2 separate regions of the Homo sapiens genome follow, and region 1 is linked to region 2. Evidence: fine-mapped expression QTL. A gene starts in region 2. The other region holds a variant in brackets. All regions are shown on one strand. Distances are from middle to middle.

The links. PIP is the estimated chance that this variant, and not a neighbour inherited with it, causes the effect.
Region 1: its variant is the best candidate, but not a certain one, in a credible set for the expression of ADORA1 in whole blood (INTERVAL, PIP 0.65).

Annotation. Positions count from the first base shown.
Region 1 is chr1:203,087,580-203,090,358 of GRCh38, reverse strand. MYOPARR (myogenin promoter associated myogenic regulatory antisense long non coding RNA) reads right to left here. Exons shown (of 3, transcript NR_160550.1): 3 at 2,019-2,779. Among named protein-coding and RNA genes, the nearest start is that of MYOG, 3.0 kb to the right of the region's middle. RefSeq lists an enhancer at 2,511-2,779. The variant T/C (reference allele first, on the strand shown) is at 1,311.
Region 2 is chr1:203,126,242-203,129,020 of GRCh38, reverse strand. It overlaps ADORA1 (adenosine A1 receptor), which reads right to left and starts at 1,295. Exons shown (of 4, transcript NM_000674.3): 1 at 1,093-1,295; 2 at 589-743; 3 at 1-236. The coding sequence starts at 179. RefSeq lists an enhancer at 591-1,571.

The DNA.
Region 1 (2,779 bases), 39 kb after region 2:
AAAATATATGGTGAGACCTGTTTGGAGCAGCCAGAGGCCCCCACCCTTCCAGACCCTTCTCCTTCTTGCTCCTCTATTCCCAAGCACATGAGAATCCAGAATGGAAAAATTGCTTTGATTTTAGCCAAGCACCATGGCAGCCCAGGTCAGCCCACCTGCAAAATCAGCAGGGACTAGAAGATGCTGAAGGCCAGAGGGCTGTGACTGGGTGTGCAGCAGAAGGGGTAGTAAGGAGCAGGGAGCAGGTGAAGGGGATTTCTGAGCATTTTGAAATCCAGCCGCTACCATGCAAATGACATCAGCCCAGCGTGCAAATAGACAGAATCAAGTTGAAACAGTCAGGGTTGGGGAGCCAACAATGTGGCCCTGGAGCCCCAGTAGGGGATAAGGGCTTCCTCTGGAGGGCGCAGGACTGCTGGAGGAGGAGGCTACAGTCAGGGCAGGGGGCCCTGTGTGCCCAAGCCAGCAGGGATGGGGATTAGGGCCGGACGCCCTGCTGTCAGGTTGGAGCTGATGGATTGCCGCTGGTGGCGGAGCACAAAGGCTGTTCTGTGCTTGGCACCAATGTGTTCCCATCCATCAGAGGGCAGCTTGTGGGGGTGGAGGGGTGTACAAGGGGAGGAGGACCAAGCCTCTAGATGAGGCGTCTCCACAGCTCGGCTCTGAGAGAAGAACAAGATGGGTACAGGGCCAATCCCCCCCATCAGGGTATGGACAGGTCAAAGACACCTGGGTCACTCTATCAGCTCAGACCAAGAGGGTCTGTGCCCCACATCGGGCTTTGACGTGGTCCCCAAACCACTGTACTCAGACATACACAAACACACACAGAGACAGGGATTCACAGAAACCAGGCACACAAGGTCACCCTAACCTCCCGGCTCTGCCCTCATGTTTGGTCAGAGGCAAACATCATCCAGACACAAGGCCAAATGCATGCCCAACAGAGCTTCTGCAGGCAAGCGCCGAGTCTAGGCACTGCTCTTGCCCCAGGTCAGGTCCCAGCCAGGGAACTGACACAGAGTGGGTTCTCAGTAAATATGTGTTGAGCAGATGAAGGAGTGAATTAATAAATTCCTTCTCTGGATTACGTCAGCACTTTCTCTAGCCTGCTGTTTCTACCTTGGTTAGATGACTTTGTGTACTCATTCTCCTTACTCATCAGTGAACATGCTGAAGGCAGAGAGGGCATGTCTTAGTAACCCCAGCACCTGGCACAAGGTGCTGAATGCACAGTACTTGATAGAAAAAAAAATGAATGAATGAATAAACACATTCGGGGTGGAGCCAGGTTTTCCCTCCTCCATTCC[T/C]GCTGCTGTGGTCCCCTGCAGGGCACACAGAAGTAGAAGAGAAGACAAAGCAAGAAAAGGGAATAACATTTACCAGGTGTATCCATGTGCCAAGTACCCTATCATTTAATACAGCCATTCCCCTATTGCTTGCATACTCGCCATCCTTTGCTAGCCTGAAACATGCACCCTCTCCCAGTCGAATCCATCCTCCTGCCTCTGAAGAGGTTGTTCAGACCTTCATCATCTCATTCCTGGATGACCATCACACTGTTCTGTGCGGTCTCCTTGCCTCAGCTCTCAAGTCCTTCCCTGCCCAGCTGGGCCTCCTCCCCTCTGTGCAAGTTTGTCTCAAATCACCCCCTTACCTGAACCCCAAGCTCCATACAAACAGCCTACCCAACGTCCCCTTCCCCTGCTCCCCTCTCCTCATCTGAATCCTACCAGTTCTCCAAGAGCTGGCCCAGCATGCTCCCCAAGCCTTCTGCAGAGCACCAGTCTTCAGCAGTTTTGGCTTCCCAAAAATTCCCAAAACGCTTTTGAAGAAACTACTGGTTTGCAATTGATTAAAGCCCCCATGTTTGCTGTAGAATCAACATAGCTCTCCCTTGTCTTGTAATCCAGCTTTCACATGTCAACCCATGCTCACCAACTAGACAGTAAGGTCTGGAAACCACCATAGAGCAAGCCAGCTCTGCCTCCATTTTAGAGGAAGAAGACACATTATTTAGAGGTAAGTCACACTGGATCCTGGAATAACAAAAGATGCAAATATGGGGGTTCCTATAGTGGCTTCAACATGACTTCTTTTCTCAGGGCTCATAGGACTGGAGGGTAAACTGAGGCTTTTTTTTTCTTTTTTGTTTGGCAGGGGATGTGTTAGAAATAGAGACTCTTCTTCAGCCCAGCTGGTCAGGGGAAAGCAAAGTTTAGAACCCACACAGTACCTATGCTGCTACTTTTTTTTTTTTTTTTTTTTTTTTTTTTTGAGGCAGAGTCTCGCTGTGTCACCCAGACTGGAGTACAGTGGTGCGAACTCGGCTCACTGCAACCTCCTCCTCCTGAGTTCAAGTAATTCCCTGCCTCAGCCTCCCAAGTAGCTGGGATTACAGTGCCCACCACCATGCCTGGCTAATTTTTGTATTTTTAGTAGAGACAGGGTTTCACCATCTTGGCCAGGCTGGTCTTGAACTCCTGACCTCGTGATCCACCCGCCTTGGCCTCCCAAAGTGCTAGGACTACAGGCATGAGCCACCACGCCCGGCCTATGCTGCTACTTTCTATCATGCTGGTAAGGCCAAGAACAGAATTAAGACCTCACTGCTCTCCCTCAACATGCTTAGGGTTCTTTTGTTGTCCAGCTATGTTCCCTCCTTCCCTCCATTTCCTGTCCCAAAAGGACATCAGAATTCTCCTGGCTCCCTGCTGTGAATAATGAGAGGAAGGAACACTGGTTCTTCACATGCCTCGCAGATCTCATGTTCCCTGTG
Region 2 (2,779 bases):
GCACCCACGGCCACATCAGCCACCGCCAGCGACACGATGAAGCAGAAGGTGGCATCCCGCAGCGCCTGGTTCACCTTCACCGCCCAGATCACCAGCACGTTCCCGGGCACAGAGACCAGGGCGATGAGCACCTCGATGCCGATGTAGGCGGCCTGGAAAGCTGAGATGGAGGGCGGCATGGCGGGCACAGGCTGGGCACATCAGCAGACGGGCACCAAGGGGCACGAGGCAAGCACCTGTGTGGTCAGGGAAGCCTGGGATGGGGAGACCCGTCTGGGAGGGGCAGGGAGCTCAGGCTGCCCTGGAACTCCAGGTACCCTGTGATGTGTCCCACTTGTCACATGCAGCTCCTACCCAGGCTGGAGGGGCACCCGGACCCTTCTCTGCCTAATCTTTGTCCCTTCCCTTTATCATTCCCAGAGGTTCCATTCAGCAACTTAAAATAGCAGCGCTCACTCCTCCACTGGCTTTTTTATCAGGTGTGAGGCAGCTCCCAGCGCGCGCGCACACACAGACACACGCACAGAGGGGTCTCCCATGACTGGCTCTGCCCACCCCTGTGCACAGAACAGGATGCAGGGAGCTCACCATCCTGCCTGCTGGCCGGCAGGGGTCCCAGAGGCAGTGCCCAAAGTTCCAGGGAACAGAGCTCCGGGCCGCGCGCGGTAGGGCTGGGCTGGGCTCTGGACAACGCGCGGCAGCTCATAGTCCTCCGGCTCCCGCCGCAGCGCTCCCAGCCCGGCCTTTCAAGCAATCACATGGTACGGCAGAGACTCAGCCCCGGACGCTTTTAAAGAGGTAGCGCCCCTGTTTCGCACCTGGGACTGGGGTGGCAGACGTGGGTCTGGGGACGGAGCCCAGGACAAGGCTGGGGCGTTTCTCCCTATTCCCCAGCGTGCCCGCACCTGCCCTGCGCCCACCCACTTGAGACCCGTCTGGTGCCTGGATCTTAGCAGTCCTCTGGTCCCGTTCCAGCTCTGTCGGGGAACCTTGCCCATGGCCTGCCCCAAGGGGGCATTCCGGTCTCTTCTTTCAACCCTCTCCTGCACCCCCATTGGGGAGCCCCAGGGGTGAACCGAGACTCAGACTTACCCAAGGTCACCAAAGCTGGCAGAGCTCCCGGCTGCCTGACTGTTCTGTCCAAGTGCCCCCACACCTCGACGCCTTCAGCAGCCGCTAGCTCCAGGGATTCCTGGGGAAGCCAAGGCCGGCCGGTAAGCTCCAGAGGGATGGTAGCTGGCTGGGACTCGACTCGGGCGCCTGCGGCTCTGTCGCCCCCGGCGCAGGAGCTGAGTGACAATCGGGCTCCGCACACCGGGAGGGGGCGGGGGCGGCGGCGGCACCCGCCAGCCCCTCCCTCCTCATCCTCCGTCTCCTCCCCCACCCCCTCCTCTTAACAAAGGAAGTGATACTGGGTGAGAAAAGCTGGAAAAAATGTGAGCTTTTCGAAGGGCCTGGTGTGTGCGCCCAGCCTCAGGACTGGACAGAGGCGCATCCTTCCTGTGTCCACTCTCTCCCTTCTCAATGCAGGACTCCTGGGAGCCCTGGTCTGGCCTCCAGCGACCCCTCACCCCTCACGGCACAGCATCTCTTCTGCAGGACTTCAGAATGCCCCCTCTGGGATCTCCCAAAGCAGTCGGTAGCCCTGGCACCCTCCCCCAATCCTAAAACCCTGCTCTCTCCATGAAACCAGTCCCTGCATCTTCTCATCCCATATTGTTTTGCAGGCTCTACCCTGAGTCATTATATTCCTTTCTCATCCATCTTTCAGAATTGCCTTTTAGTCTATTAGCAATTTCTATTTTGCAGATAAGGATGCTGAGGCTCAGGGAAGTGACCTAGCTTCCCAGGATCTCCTGGCAGTGTAACCCGCTCTGCGCTCCTTTTCCTTCCTCCTTCTTCCTCTTCATAGCACAGCGCTAAGCCATAAGGCATCCAGTCCAATCCCCTCATGTTACAGATAAAGAAGCAGGCTCAGGGAAGCAAGGGACTTCCGGAGGGTCACAGGGCAAATCCTAACAGGACCAAAATAAGAATCCCAGGCTCCTGACTCTCTCCACTGGGTCCAGACCCCTCCCCTGGCCACCTTCTGCCAGTTTCGGTTTAGGCAGTCCACTGATATTAACTAATGACCAGACCCTGGACATGGATGGATGCCTCGCAGAGATCCCAACCTGAGAAATCCTTGTTTGTGGGTATTGGGCAAGGGTTCTAGGAAGGCAAAGAGAGTCAGGCTGGGGACCCCAATGTTAGCTAGCCACAACCCAACCTGGCCTCTGGGGGTACTGCCCCCCTCACTGGATCTCAGAATGCAAGGAAAAGGGTTCTGCCCAGAGGAGGGTGGGCACGTTGCTCCCATTGGGGGCTGCACTGAATCACAGTGAGGAATGATGTGGGACCCGGAACCTGGGTAGCTGGGAGGCAGGGAGGAAGGGCAGTTGAGTCTTCTGAGGAGGAGGGGGAAGCCCTCTGTGGGGAAAAATAACTTCCATTTCTGCCTTTAGGGGGAGCAAGGAATCAGTGCCTCAGACAGCAAAATTACATTCCTTCCCTAGAAGCTAGTTGGAGAAATTAGGAAGTGTAAACTCTCCTTCCTCCTCGTCCCCTTGCACTTCCCCTGCTGACTTTGTCAACACGCCCAACAGCACCTGACGTCCTGCCTACTCCCCCTGCCACCCAGACATGCAGGCCTTTGCGACCATCCCCTGCCTCTCCACCCTTTGCTTGACTTAAGCCATTTTTGGCTCAAGGCTTTCTCTCTCAGTTTACACTCAGCTTC